Homo sapiens: one gene and its partner. The main gene of each other region encodes a partner of the protein of the gene in region 2 in a complex. Links are inferred from orthologs where the notes say so. Each region holds a gene or a part of one and is shown on either strand. Other genes may lie near its edges. The genes, in order: CASK and DLG1.

Evidence for each region.
Region 1: the proteins of DLG1 (region 2) and CASK are in contact, whole or in part, in an NMR structure (PDB 1RSO), measured with the Rattus norvegicus proteins. The link is inferred for Homo sapiens from one-to-one orthologs. Residues at the interface, in NP_036920.2 of Rattus norvegicus: Arg4, Asp7, Thr8, Arg10, Ala11, Leu12, Leu14, Leu15, Tyr18, Lys21, Leu22, Glu26, Asp27, Leu30, Ser33, Ile34, Arg36, Val37, Ser39, Ile40, Phe41, Ser43, Leu45, Phe46, Leu49, Ile50, Gln53, Glu57, Val58, Leu60; in XP_038955489.1 of Rattus norvegicus: Gly339, Ala342, Ala343, Arg345, Ala346, Val347, Gln349, Val350, Ser353, Leu354, Glu356, Ile357, Leu360, Thr361, Asp367, Leu368, Phe370, Leu371, Ser373, Val374, Phe375, Asp377, His379, Leu380, Thr382, Leu383, Leu384, Asp385, Leu386, Tyr387.

The regions. Positions count from the first base shown.
Region 1 is NC_000023.11:41,913,403-41,920,671, reverse strand, and holds part of CASK (peripheral plasma membrane protein CASK), read left to right. Parts: intron 1-7,269. UniProt on the Homo sapiens protein: Multidomain scaffolding Mg(2+)-independent protein kinase that catalyzes the phosphotransfer from ATP to proteins such as NRXN1, and plays a role in synaptic transmembrane protein anchoring and ion channel trafficking.
Region 2 is NC_000003.12:197,295,442-197,303,639, reverse strand, and holds the start of DLG1 (disks large homolog 1), read left to right. Parts: upstream 1-5,027; 5' UTR 5,028-5,104; exon of another isoform or gene 5,105-5,393; intron 5,394-5,504; exon of another isoform or gene 5,505-6,096; intron 6,097-6,158; exon of another isoform or gene 6,159-6,287; intron 6,288-6,404; 5' UTR 6,405-6,435; coding exon 6,436-6,454; intron 6,455-7,162; coding exon 7,163-7,294; intron 7,295-8,198. UniProt on the Homo sapiens protein: Essential multidomain scaffolding protein required for normal development. Recruits channels, receptors and signaling molecules to discrete plasma membrane domains in polarized cells.

The DNA of each region.
Region 1 (7,269 bases), on a different chromosome or scaffold from region 2:
TCAGGAAACACCCCTGGGAGAAAAAAATTCATCTTTTCTGACTGTTTCAGAGCTGCATAAAGAGGGGCAGCAAGCTAATTTTGAGGTGATAGGTACTCTATGGCTACCTTAACTACTATGAACTGTGAAATCTCATTCATATCCTACAAAATCTGACTTGGTCAGTGCCAATTATAAAATGCCATTATGTGAAATAATGAATTCAAGCTAGCCTTATTGTTAAAGAATGTAATAATAGTGTTCCTCAATCTGAGTAAAGGTTGAAGGTTTCTCTAGTAAATTGTCTTAGTATATATTGATCTGGAAATTGAAATTAGCTTGAGATTTTCTTGCAGGGACCTTGACAGCATACATTTTTAACTTATAATTTGTTCACCTCTGAATTTGAACAGAAAGCCCTTGAAGATATTCACATGTACTGAAAACCTTTTTATTGATTTCTATCCAAGTTCTATGGAATTTTGATTTTCTTTTTTACCAAATTAGTATCACAAGTTGTTTTTCACCACTAGATCTTAATAGGTTTTAATTTTTACTAAGGTACTTTAAAATAGATTTCACTTTTCAAGACTAATTGACTACCCACTCACTCCTCTACCTACGCAACCACCTACTCACTCACCCACTGTGTACTTGGCCTTACTTGATGGCATAAATGAAAGTTCTCGTTTAATTTAGACCCTTCAGTGTGTTTTTTTCCCCCTTGGTTGAGAAAGATAACTTACAGAGTTAATGAGGTTTTGAAATATAAGATCATTATTTGGAATATGTTTTCTTTCCAGTGGTTGCAGCCTTTACCCTTGTTAAAGCTGTCTTTGAGGGAACATGTGCCCAATTTGTTACAAATATTGGAAGGATGCCGTTTCCCTTTTTAAAAATTAAAACTCTTTTCCCTGTGTTTCTCATTTTTGAAAATCTTGCAGAAACTCCTTTGAGTGACTGTTGGTTCTATAACATTTTCTATGTAACTATCTTTTAAATGACTGAAACAAATCTCCAATAATAAGACCTTATCATAGTCCCAAAACTTCTTGTCTTAGCAAATGTAGCGATTACTGGAAAGGAAGGGCGTTATGCAAATGAGGTTAATGACTAATTTTTATGTCATGATCATTTACTGTATCTTTTACAATTATAAGTAAGTGTACAACCGGTAATACTACATGAAGGAAATTTAAGACAATTCATCGAAATTAAAACATAGAAAAATGCCTACTTTCTTGGTACAGCAGTGTGTATGAAAGGGAATAACAAAATACATACCATTTTTACCTTGTGTTAGGTGAATACTTGCCCTGTTTAGTAGCCTGTAGCTTCAGACTTTCCTGCTCTGGTAGGACATACACTAAAATTGGAATGATGCAGCATGACCCTTGCTTAAGGATGACGTGCAACTTTGTGAGGCATGCTGTATTTGCTTACTCCTCGAGAGCACTTTTATTTAATTACAGTTACTTATTTATGGATCTCTCTAGTTCACTAATAAGGAGCTTCCTGAGGGCAGGGAATGTTTCTTACACATCTTTCTCCATTAACACAGTGCGTGCAATGTAACTGCCTTTCATTAGCTGTGGAATGAATTGAGTAGTTTTAATAAAATCTCATTAAAAGGCAAAAAAGCATGTTTGTCAACCTCAGAGCAATTATTGTCCGAAGAGCCTGCATTAGTTTAAAGTAGTGGTTCTCCACCTGGCTGCATATTAGAATCATCCGGGGAGCTTTTAAAAAAGATCAACGCCAGAGCCCTGTGTCAAAGCAGTGAAGTCCGAGTTTCTGGGACTGGGTCCTGGTCACTGACATTTTTTTAAAGCTCTCTGTGTGATTCTAATATGCAGCTATAATGAGGAATCATTGGCTTAAAACTTAGATTATGTATGTAATATTTTGGGACTGGCTTTTCAGAGGCTTACAATTCTTACAAAGTAGAATAAATTCTTTTTGGAAGGTATTGAAGCTAAATGGCTAAAACATGGATTTTATCTTCTATGCACTTGTGTTTCTCAGCCTTATTGTGTAAAAATTTAGTTTTAGCTTGTGTTTGGCTTTGATTTCTTGGGCCTTTTAAGATCCACATTGATTTATGACACTCATCTAATGCTAACATGGCGATTGTCTGACGTTTGGAACAACACAGAACAAGGATTGCTTCAATAACAGTTGATGATGGTTTTCCACTATAATGGCTTGATTTAATATGAAGAAATTTATCAGTTTAGTATGGATTGTGTTTGTACATACACTCTATTAAAAGAGTATGGTTAAGTTGCTTGTATGCTTTAAATTACATACTTGTGATTCCAGTAATGCTGTTAGCTGGAGAATTGAGTTAATGCAGCCTTTATGTAAATACTGGATTAATAATACGTAAAGTATATAATTCAGCATACAGAAAAATTCAGCTTTACTAATTTGTACTAATTACTATGACTTTCACATGTATTGATTCATGCAGTGATTTGGGTTTCTAGTACCATAGGGAGAATTTCGCATTGTGTTGAAAAAATGTTTCCCGGAAATTTTAACTAGACTTTGTAGGTAAACTAGTTTTTAATGTTAGGAAAAGATCAAGTGTTTGCCTGAAGGAACCGAGAATTTTCCAGAAATGAGTAGATATTCCAGAAATACCAGTGATCGTGAAAGCAGTGCATGATCACAGTGACAGCCAAGTAACAAGGTAAAAGAAGTGATCAGCAGCTAAATTGTTGGTGGCCCAGAAAGAATGCAAGCCATGGGAGTTAAGCTGTACTTCTACAGAGGAAAATCCTTTTGAACTCAGGGTGTGGATGCTACAGATAGCAGGCCTCAATGGGAGTGGGGAAGCAATATTGATTCCTGATGATCCTAGGATCATTTGGAGGGAGAACAGAGCTACTCCGTTGCTTTTCTGCATGTATACAACCTTCTCTAGTCTCTTCCTGTCTGCTTTTTACAGATTGCTTTAGGGTGTGTTGTTTGAAGTTGTCTTCATAAATACTTCCTGTGGACTCCCTTAATTTTTATGTCCGTAACACGCTTCTATGTACTTGACATACGCAGTTCAGCTCTCTCCATTTTTTCCTTGTATCTGCAACAGTTTCACCTGATGAACTACGTCTCAAGTGTCCCTAAATTGTGTACCTGGATATTTCCTTTAAACTGAAAATTCTGTCTCCAGCTGTAGTTCTACTCAATAAATTGAAGGAGCAGATATACCTTGCTTCTTGAGATTATTCTTGAATTATTACATTTTCTTAAACGTTTTCACATTTTAAATGTGGTAGGAGCACTGCATTTAAAGGAACTTTGACATAAGGTTGTTTAAAAAACTTCTATAACTTAAAGCTTACTTTATAAAGGGATTGACATTTATCCCTCTAATGTTAGGCATTTTGGATGTATTATTTAATCATACCCATTTTACAGAGAACACTGAGATTCAGAGGGGGTGATCAGTAATTCGCCTAAGATCACACAGATTCCAACGCGGTTCCATGGTTTTAAAGTCTGTTCATTTCATGCTGCATTCTGCTGCTAATTCAAGTTGTGAAAATACTGTGTTGGATTTTCTTAAAGACACGTCTTCATTTTCAGAGTTTCTATACTGCAAATTTTAGTTGTTTGACTTTCTGGTTAAATTTCTTATTTCTTCAGTAGAGGTTCCATATACTATTCATTCTTTCATCTGTTTCTTTTTTATTTTTGTCTTTCTCTTTAATGAAACATCAGCATTTGTTACCAAACTAACTGGTAAATCTAGCAATGGAAATATAGACTCTTGGCCATCTGTCCAAAATATAATTTGTTTTGGAACTTTCTCTACTTCTTTTACTCTCCAAATTTTTTCTTCCATTTCCCTTGCCCCAACAGACAGGATAGTTGATTAATTACCCCTAACTTGCCAAACCAGAAGTAATAAGGTTTCAGAGGTAGATGTTTGTTGGAAGTGGGGTGGAGTGGTTTCCAAAGGATAGTTATTCCTTTATCCTGTGATAAAAATACGGAGATTGTTCTCTCTGATTCTGAAAACCGTGTAGTGAGCTGCAGCCGCTGAGTCTGTGAGCTTCTAGCTGTTTGCCAGCACTGTACACCTTAAATAATCAAGAGACTGAGTTAACTATTGCAGAGCAGGTACCGGACCCCAGCCAACAAGCTGATGGGATGTGCTGTTCTCACATTTTTTGGTTTTATTTTTTAGTTGCAACTGACAGTGAAGATTCTAGAAGCACCAAATATGGCTCTGGATTTATGCTGTGGGATTTAAGATGCTACAGAACTTGCTCTCCTTCCTTTCTGTCCTGGAGCCACTATGGTATTGGTTGTAGAGCCCAAGTCAGTATAGAGTCTCTGACTTCTACCCTGGGAAAATTTCATTTCCGAAGCTAGTTTGTTTTGAAGTTAATGTTTATTTCCAACATTGAGATTTAATAATTTTGTGTTACTTTTCTTTATTAATTAGTTTTTATACAGTAAATTATAAAAGTAATGATGCACGTAGTAAATTTTATTTTCTTTTTTTGAGATGGAGTCTCGCTCTGTCTCCCAGGCTGGAGTGCAGTGGCACGATCTTGGCTCACTACAACCTCCGCCTCCTGGGTTCAAGTGATTCTCTTGCCTCAGCCTCCCAACAAGCTGGGATTACAAGCATGCACCACCGCGCCTGGCTAATTTGTGTGTGCGTGTGTGTGTGTGTGTGTGTGTGTGTTTTGAGACGGAGTCTCACTCTGTCGCCCAGGCTGGAGTGCAATGGCGCGATCTCGGCTTACTGCAAGCTCCGCCTCCCAGGTTCACGCCATTCTCCTGCCTCAGCCTCCCGAGTAGCTGGGACTACAGACGCCCGGCTAATTTTTTTTTTTTTTTTTGTATTTCTAGTAGAGATGGGGTTTCACCATGTAAGCCAGGATGGTCTTGATCTCCTGACCTCGTGATCCACCCGCCTTGGCCTCCCAAAGTGCTGGGATTACAGGCGTGAGCCACCGCGTCCAGCCTAGTTTTTTATTTTTAGTAGAGACGGGGTTTCACCAGGCTGGTCTCGAACTCCTGACGTCAGGTGATCCACCTGCCTTGGTCTCCCAAAGTGCTGGGATTACAGGCGTGAGCCACTGTGCCCAGCCATACAATTTAAAATATAGGTGATACAAAGATAAGTAGTGAGTCTGTCTCAATTCTCCTACCATCCATATCCCCATTCTCTAGAGGTAACCATTGTTCAGTTTCTTCTCCATCTTTCTGGAAGCTTTTTGTTTAAAAGTGAGATATTTGTATACTATGCTGAAATATTGATTTTTCATGAATAATAGTATATACTTGATGATCTTGTCATATCCATCAATGTATCTGTCTGTCTCTATCTCCTCTTTAGCTGCTGCCCAGTATTCTGTCATATGGATTGTTACTTTGGCTTTGGATTGAGTGCAAGCCAATTGTAATTTTACATTGCTTGAAATGCTGAGCTGGAATTTGGGTGAGAGGTATGGAATGGCAGTGAAGATTTGGGAGTCATCTGTGTGGAAGTAAAACTGAGTGAACAAGTTCTTGGGGGTTGACTGCTCTAGGGCTCGTGGTTTGGAGTATAACTCATAGAGTTAGAAGAATCAGGATAATGGGCTGCACAGAAGTTTAAAAGAGGGGGGAGGATCAATAATGTAAAATGCCAATATACTCTGAGGACTAAGAACACATGTGGCTATAACAGAGAAACAATTTAAAGCACTTATCAAAATGAATATTATGTTTAATAGTCAATTCATGATGTGTCTGAAAAGCTAGGTCTGGCTTCTTTTCTGTGGATACTAGTAATTTTATACTATCTCTCTGTAAATCTATCTCAGAACCAACATATTTAGGGTAAAAACAAAGTAGATTTCTTTTTCACTCTAATTGTGTTTTGCAGATTTCTGATGACTGGCTTTTAGGTAAAATCATTTGGTTTTCCTAAGATTATGTCCTTTTCATTCCCGAGCTTGTGCATGACTGTCAATTAAATGGAAGCCTTTCATGAAGTGACAAAGTAAGTTTTAGATACTTTACATTTACTTTAAGTTCTTGGTATGTGTCAAACCACTGTTATTGTCTTATATCTTTCTACTATAGGAAACTGAATTCTTTCTAGCCTCAAGGATTTTTGTCCACGTTGGATGAATGTAGTACTGTCCTCCTCTTTCACATTTCTTCTCCCATCACCTCCTAACTAAATTTGTTCATTGGCTATTTTTGGTTGTCCACATCCATTCACAATAAGAAACGATTGCTTCGTTGTACATAAGCCAGTTTTTTGGTATCTAAGTGCGTGCTATTTCACTTCAGCTTCTTGTATTCTATTTATTACTGGGCTGTTGTACATTGTTTTTTCTCCCAATCTTTGTGATTTCTTTTAATATACTTTCTTTCCTTTTTGCTTTGTAATCATTGTTTTGAGTATTTGAATCATTTGCAGGTAAGAATGTGGATTGTTCTGTCTCTCATGTAGTTTAATAATATCCAAAATATACTATGTTCAGTCTGTATTTCAGGCTTTTAACACTTAAGTTAGAGTATTTTGGTATATTTAAATCTAGGATAGAAGTACACTGTATTACCATTCAACTACATGCAGATTTTAATGTTTTCTTAAATTAAAGGATGATGATATTCATTCAGTTACAGAGGTCTCTCTCTCTAGTCCTTCCATGGTGTGCAGATTACCATTATACTACTGCTATTTCATAGATTCTAATTTGTGTTTTTAGAAAACATCATCAATTCTTGGCCTTCTTTCTTACCCTTGGTATGTGATTTCCCCTAAAGGTATGGAATGCGGTTGCTCTGTGGCTTGTTAGGCAGCCCCCTTCTGATCTGGTAACCTTTGGGCACAGTGTGGCTATTTTCTCCTTATTTATAAAAGGAATGATAGCTGCTTCACAAACCATTTGTGTGGATTAGTGAATTGTAAAGTGCAGCATAAGTATTTTTTATTTCTAGAATGTCTCTGAGATACTCAAATTACTTTTGGCAGTTATGTACGTAAGTTTCAACAATTTCCAAATGTGCACATTCTCAGTGCTAAACACAGGCTCTATTACATAAATAATATGGTGAAATGAACATTCTTTTCTACCATGTGTGTAAAATTGTTAGTGGTGCTAACTTTTATTCATTGTTCATTTATGTATTCATTTCTAGCTATGAGGTCCTGGGCAAGTTAGTTAGCCTCTCTGACCCTCAGTTTCTTTATCTGTAAAATGTGGTTAATGGTATATACTTTGTAAGGTTGTTGTGAGGATTGAATAGCATGATCTATGTGAAATGTCTAAA
Region 2 (8,198 bases):
CCTAAACCAAGTTATCTCAGTTTCCTCTTCCTCTGTGCTCTCCTTTGCAAAGTGGGAGACCATAACCAACGAGTTTATCTTATCGGTTGCTGTGGACCTGCAGTGAGTTAAATCTGCCTTTGAACACTGTATGAGAGGCTATACCACTCTCCGGATAGACCAGTTTACACGGGAGGCAGTTATTAGTCCTATGCTGATTTAGTACTCCATTATACCACACTCCAGGAATCTTAGGGTGGCTCTTCCATTAAAAAGCATTAATTCAGTGCCTAACTACCTATCATGGAGATGGTCAACTGTCCACATTTTAAAGGGAATTGGTTTCAACCTGTAGCTTTTATTCTGTTAAGAATTATCTATGAGAAAGAGATCAGTCTTGGTACCACCAAAACTGGGTAGAACGAATTCTTGATGTAGACTAAAGGGTGCTAATACCATTTCAGTATTCAGCAGGGACTGAGGTTTCAACAGCTTAGAACTGTGGTCTCAGAGGTCACGTGGTTCAACCTTATGTCCTGGGTATCTACCACCCTCTGACACAGAATCCTTGCTGGCTTCATTCAGCACCTTCCTGATTAAAAAAAAAAAAAAATTTCCACTACCTTGAGGCAGCTCTTTGGAATTTTGGACAGTTTCTGACAACTCATGTTAAGGAAAAACTTCCTGTGTTTGTCCATTGGTTGAATTTTCATCCATTGACTGTACTTGCCCACTGGGTACACAGAATAAGCCTGTTTGATGACTGCAGCTCCCTGGAGACTTCTGTTTTTCCAATGAAATGGCCCTAGATTGTACAGTTGTTTCCTGATTGCTGTGGTTACTCTCTTCTTTCCACATGCTGGTTTGTTCAGATTCCTTTAAAAGCGTGCTGCTAAGCAATGCCCCCTAGGCTCTCATGGAGGTCTGACCAATATGTCCACTTTCAACATACTTGACACTGTTCCTCTTCCTGCAGCCTAAGCTGGCATAAGCTTTTTTGACAGCATTAAATCCTTTCCTTTTAGTGATTGCCTTGGCACAGGCAGCATGCTGCTACCCTGCTGGAGTGAAAGCAAAAGATGCAGCGGAGTCTGGCAGGACCTGGACACCTTCATAGATTTATAAGCTGGGGCCTAGATGGAGGAGAAGACAAAGACAGAGATGTGAAGCTGCAAAGGTGGCTTGGGCAGGATGGTTGGGAAGGGAAGGGTTGGAACTTAGAGACAGTATCTTTGACATTGACTCTCTGACATTTCAATAAAAGAATGGGAAATCTGAGCCTTTCCCCATGGTCTTTGACTCCGAAGCCTTTTAAGCTCTTCAAAAGGCAAGTTAACTTGGAGCTGGAAAGTGAACAGCTTTACCTGCTAGTATTTTGTTGAAGTAACTTCTTCTATTCGTCTATCTAACTATCGATAGACAGACAGATAGGACAGATATAGATAGATAGATAGATAGATAGATAGATAGATAGATAGATAGATGATAGATAGATAGATAGATATAGTGTGTGTGTATATATATATATATTTAATGAGGAAGTTGGAAAATTAGATCCAATATTGTGTCCTATTCAATGGCAGCTGCTCACTGCACAAAGTAAGGAAAACTTTGAGGAAATAAAAGTTGCTTAGAAAAATCCAGATGTCAGGGCTGGGTGCAGTGGCTCACACCTGTAATCCCAGCACTTTGGGAGGCTGAGGCGGGTGGATCACGAGGTCAGGAGATCGAGACCATCCTGGCCAACATGGTGAAACCCCGTCACTACTAAAATACAAAAAATTAGCTGGGCGTGGTGGCACATGCCTGTAGTCCCAACAACCCAGGAGGCTGAGGCAGGAGAATAGCTTGAACCCGGGAGGCAGAGGTTGCAGTGAGCCGAGATCGTACCACTGCACTCCAGCCTGGCAACAGAGCAAGACTCGGTCTAAAAAAAAAAAAAAAGAAAAGAAAAATCCAGATGTCATTGCTTTGTATGTTGTGATGATGTGGTAGCCAGCTCCAAGAAGATGGCCTCCAGTGAGTCTTACTTTCTGGTATTCATATCCTTGAGGCTGATCTAAGTAACTGATCGGATATTATGGAGTATGCTATGGTCTGAATGTTTGTGTCCTTCTTAAATTAATACGTTGAAATCTTCACCTTCAAAGTGATCATATTAAGAGATGAGGCTTTTGGGAGGTGATTAGGTCTTGAAAGTGGAGCTCTTCTAAATGGGATTAGAGCCTTTATAAAAGATGCCAGATAGAGCTTGTTAGTCCCTTGCACCATGGGAAGATGTAGCAAGAAGGCTCCATTCATGAGGAATGGGGCTATTACCAGACACTGAATCTCTTGGTGTTTTTTTTTTTTTTTTTTTTTTTTTTTTTTTTTTTTTTTTTAAGACAGAGTCTTGCTCTGTCGCCCAGGCTGGAGTGCAGTGGCGCGATCTCGGCTCACTGCAACCTCCGCCTCCCGGATTCAAGCAATTCTCTGTCTCAGCCTCCTGAATAGTTGATTACAGGTGCCTGCTACCATGCCTGGCTAATTTTTATATTTTTAGTAGAGACGGGGTTTCACAATCTTGGCCAGGCTGGTCTTGAACTCCTGACCTCGTGATCCACCTGCCTTGGCCTCCCAAAGTGCTGGATATTACAGGCATGAGCCACCGCGCCTGGCCATTTTTTTTTTTTTAATTTTTATTCTCATGACTGTTAGATCACATCTGATGGTGTTTTGATCTTGGACTACTTAGTCTCTAGAGCTGTAATACATTCCTGTTGTTTATAAATCACCCAGTCTAAGGTATTTTGTTATAGCAGCCCAAACAGACTATGACAGAGTGTCACTTTTGAGACTAAGTGATGAAAGGCATTGTGGCTTCTTCTGTCTCGCCATCTTGAATCACTTGCTCTGTTGGACGTCAGCCGCTACGTCATGAAGACACTCAAGCAGCCCTATAGAAAGGTCTTCATGGTGAGAAATTGAAGCCTCCGCCCAATAGCCAGCATCAACTTACTAGCTATGTGAATGATCCATGCTGAAAGAGCCTCCCGTAGTCCCCCTGAAGCCTTCAGATGACTGCAGCCCTGGCAGGCTTCTTGACTGCAACATCATAATGCCCTGAGCCAAAACCACCCAACTATGCCGCTCCTGAATTCCTGACACACAGAAACTGAGATAATATTTATCGCTGTTTAACTTACTAAGCTAATAAGTTTTAAACCCTTAAGCTTTGAGGAACTTTTTTTTTATCCAGCAATAAGTAACTAATAAAGATGGGTAGAAAGGAGGAATGAAGAGTAAAGAGCCTTTATTCATTGTTCATATATGTTCATTTGCTAGGCACTTGCTGCCGGCACCTTAGGCTAAGGGTAGAACAAGTGCTGGGTTCACTGCTGCTTTTGTACACCGCTGACAACCAAATAGGGCTGTCACACAGAATGACAAGAAAAAAGGACACGTCCTCTTTCCTCCCCTTCCTCCTTTTTGCTTTTAGGGGAAGGCTAGGATGACATTGAGAACTCACACAAATTTTGTTTTTGACTCCTCAGTGTCCCCTGGGAAAAGGTGCATTGGCCTTTGTGTACTTGCTACAAGGCTGTGTATCCTTGAGAGCAGGACTCGGATCTTATTTATTTCTATCCCCGTTTCCTAGCAAGTGAACATATATGAACAATAAATGTTATCAAGGGAGAGGGCAAATTTCCCTCCCTGTTTCTTCTGAATTCTGAAGAGATTCCATTGTTAGAATGGTTTCTTACTGCAACCATCCCATTCACAGTCCATCAGCGAAGTCTTGAGAGTATGATGCCTGTCATGAGCCACTTTCACTACTAAATAAATTCCGTCCCTCTGTTAAGTTCCCGGCTGTTAGGACACCTCTGCCTTCAGCACCGTTTGACCCTTCTATCCCATTTTCTCTATGCAATGTTGCTTTAACTGTTGTTCAAGATCCCAGGATGCTTGATCCGGGAAAGCACAGAGGTCTGCTGCCAACATACCAACATACCTCTCTGTCAAGTTGTCCAAAATCACAAGAGAAAGAGCCCTGGACTAGAGCTAGGAGACCTGAGTTCTCGGCTGCTCTGTTACTGATTAGCGTCTATGTCCTTGGACAAGTTGCTTCCCTTTTTCCGGACCTCGGTTCCTTGTCCTAGATAGGTTCTAAAGTCGGTGGGTCCTTACAGTAAGTTAGGATTCTAAGGTGCAATCCAAAAGTAAAACCAGTGGTCAGTATACCTCTGAGTAGCTGTTAAGGTTACAATACGAGGTTCCTCGGCCTTCCCTTTGGTAGCCAATGGATACGGCCTCAGTCAGAGGCCGTCAGGTTTACTGGGAAGAGCCTTCCGGTTTTGAAAGACAGGATCTCCGGGTTTCCAGTTCTGTCACTCACTCGGGGTAACTTTGGGCAAATTCTCTCTGGACCTCCTAATAGGGAGGTCCTCGTCACCCCGAGGAAGTTCGAAGACGTGGGCAGTGACTTGGAAAGCTTCCCGAGATTCCCCTTCTATAACCTGGGTGGCTCAGACCGGGAGCGGGGTCCCAGCCGGCCGGTAATTCCGCCCGGAGGTGCGCACGAAACAAACCTGCAGCGCTGGCCGAGGGCGGCTCAGCTTCGGAGGGCGCGACTCCGGGTGAGTTCTTAAAGGGACCGTCAGAGTTTGGGTAACACCTGCGATGCTGACCGGGCGGGGACGCAGGCTTGAGGGAAATGAATGAATGAATGAATGAGCGAATGAATGAACAAACCTTCTCTGCCCACCCTTAAGTATACCATACTCGGAATTAATCAGTTAGGCTTAAAAATCTTGTACTATAACCCTCAAACTCTTGCCAAGTTAACCAGTGTCTCTATTTCATATGTCCTTCTGTAATGAAACCCCTCCCCCCAAGCCTATTACTAAGGGACGAAGAGTAACTTAACAATCAGCCTGGAGTGGAAGGCAATGCAGAGTTGGCACCCCTCCCCGAACTCCTCCCTCTCCCTCTCCCAGGCCCCGCCCTCCCCGCCCCCTGGGAGGTGCAGTTGGCTCCTCCTTAAGGCGGCTTTTCCCCGGTGGGGATCTACCCCCGGGGTCGCCAGGCGCTGTCTCTGCCGCGGAGTTGGAAACGGCACTGCTGAGTGAGGTTGAGGGGTGTCTCGGTATGTGCGCCTTGGATCTGGTGTAGGCGAGGTCACGCCTCTCTTCAGACAGCCCGAGCCTTCCCGGCCTGGCGCGTTTAGTTCGGAACTGCGGGACGCGCCGGTGGGCTAGGGCAAGGTAAAGGCGGGCTCCTCCAGGGCCACCCCGGGCCACCTGTGGAGTCCGAGTGTTAACTCCTTTGTTCTCAGAGCCACTTCAGCGGCCGCCCTTTTAAGCGAAGAGGTTCCCTTAGGATGCTCCCCGGGTACCCCTTCCGTTCCCCTGCCCTCCCCCGACCCGCCTCCCCCTTCCAACCCGAAGGTAGCAGCGCGGGGAGCCCGGGGCTCGGCGCGAGCCGCCTCCTCACTTCCCATTGGCTGAGAGCGCCGGGAAAGCGGTCACGTGGGAGCGCGGCAGGCCAGCTCGGGGGCCGCCATCTTGGCGGAAAGTTTCGGGGGAGAGCGGTTGGGGGCGCGGAAGGAGGCGAGGTTCCGGGGGTGGGGCGTGCGGCAGCAACTGGGCGAGCGGGCCGGGGGGCCGCGGCGAGCGAGGAGGCGGCGCGGCCGAGAAGGAGGACGAGGCCGCGGGGGTGCGGCGGCCCAGGGGAGCTCCTCCCCCGTCCCTTCGCCCCCTCCGCTCGGCTCCGCGGGCCCCGGGCGGGGCGGGGGTACGTGGAGCGGGGCCGGGCTGGGGAGCTGCTCCGAGTCTGGCCGGGGCGCACCCCAGTTCCGAGCGCACGCCGCTCACCGGAACTTTGTGGCGGCGCCGCAGGTGTGGGGGCCCGCGGAGGTGTGCATGCGGGGCGCGAGGGCGTCGCGGAGAGCGGCCGCTGCCCTGTCCGGCCCCCGCTGGAGCAGCCCGGAGGCAGCGAGCAAGGAGAAAGGCAAGCGAGAGGAGGGGGCCCGAGCAGGGCGGGCGGCCAGTCCCGCTGGTCCCCTCTCAGCGCTCTGCGGCCGCTGCTGGCTCAGGGGCCAAGGGTCGGAGCGCTTCACCCGCCCGTACCCAGTAGCAGGTGGGGAGTGTGGATACTTGTGCGGGGGAAGAGGCGGCCTCAGGTCTAGGCTCTTTGGGGAGGGGACGCTTTCGAGGAGAGTTTGGAAGCCGACTTCTGTCTGTTCTTAATTTGGAGGGGTACCCACTCCAAGGAAAAGCTTTCCACGTTGACAGACAACTGCTGCGTTTTGAGACTCTTTCTTTGACTTGGTAAAACTTTGGAACGTGGGGTTTTCAAATAGGCTGCGAGGGTTTTCTATTTCGATAGGGGAAAATGCTAGTTTAACATGATTCTATCCTTTTTCCTTTCCGTTGTGTGTTTTAAAGGTGTGTGCCCTCTTCCTGATTCTGGAGAAAAATGCCGGTCCGGAAGCAAGGTGAGAGTTTATTCCGTAACTCTGTTGTCGATGTCACTTGCTTTTCCGTGTGTCAGTTTTTTGATTGCCGTTTTAGAATCGTTTGTGTAACTTTGATGAGACAGCACGGTCCTAGCTTTATTGCTTAGGGAATCTAAGCCTCATATCATTTCAGAAGATGGAAACACGAAAATGTTTGTTAAACTTTCTTAACATTTCTCTAGTGATTAAGAGAGGCAGTTAGCCCCCCCCCAACAGATGTCCTTAATAACCCTGAATTGGTGTTTTAGTATTTCACTCTATCATTCTTACTAAGCACTATTCTGTAAGCAACTGTGGGATACTAAGAATTTGTATTTTGAAATGTTAAAAATTTGGATTATGATGACAAATTGTAGATAATCTGCTTTTGCATTATCAGGTAATCTGAAACTGTTGCTAATACTTTGATCTTTTACTTTGGCAAACTACCAGTACACATTTATTCCAAACTGCTCACTCTCCTCCGTTTTCTAATGTGATATATGTTTAAATTTTTCTTGTATTTCTTTAATTTTTTTTTTTATTTTTTGGTCATTCTAAGGAATATGTGTACATGAACATAGTGACATCAATTGACCTGAAGGATTTGCGGAACTATTTAGATGTCATGCAGAATTATTTGCACTAGTATGTGATACTTTTTTTGTAAATAGAGAGTTTTAATCAGGCTCTGCTTTTTCTTCTCAGATACCCAGAGAGCATTGCACCTTTTGGAGGAATATCGTTCAAAACTAAGCCAAACTGAAGACAGACAGCTCAGAAGTTCCATAGAACGGGTTATTAACATATTTCAGAGCAACCTCTTTCAGGCTTTAATAGGTGGGAATTAAAACTTCGTAACTATTATGCCAGCTAGGCTTTATGCTCCTCTCAATTCATTTATTTTAAACTTAAGAAAATGATGTACTTAATTCTCTGAGGCATTCGGTAACTTGAACATCTTCAGTGAGTTGTGTGTTTTTCATAGGCCAGTGTCCTTTCTTAAAATAACTAGTAACCAAAAAACTTTCAGGATTATTTCAGTGGCTTTTGAGAACATTGTTTCACATCTTAATAGCATTAACTATTAAAAGATGTTGCACAGATGTTTAAGGACCTAAAAGGTATGACTGAGTTACTGTGAGCTTGTTTCTGTATTTGACTGGCATGTCTCTGAAGTCATTGAAAGCGTGTGAAGGGTTCTGCTGTGTTGAAGAACATTCATTCCCTTAATGTAGATTTCTGTTTGAGCTTGGCATTCATGGAGTCAGAATTTTAGACCTGGAAAATAATCTTAGAGATGATCTTGTCTAGTAACCGTATTTTACAGGCAAGAAAATGGAAAGTTTTATTCTTAATTGTAACTTAATTTGAAGTGGTGCATTGTTTGAAAGAACTGGAAAAATAAGAGTCCTGAGTTCTTTTGCCACTAATTGAATGATATATCCCAAGTCATTTAATCTTTTCTATGCCACCATATTAGCTGTAGAATGTAGCTGTTGAAATGACAGAATGGGTTTAAAGCCTTTTTTAAGTAGATAAATCATTTTTAAAAGCATCATCTCATATTTTGTGTATAATCTCCTATGTATAAAACAAGGTGACTTGTCTGGCTCTTTTGTCCAGGTACCTCAAAAAGTTTGCAAACCACCGAACTAGAAAGTTTGTCTCTTCCAATTCTAAGAATGAAGTTTTTTTTTTTTGTTTTAGTTATCAACTATATAACATTTTAACATAAGAAGAC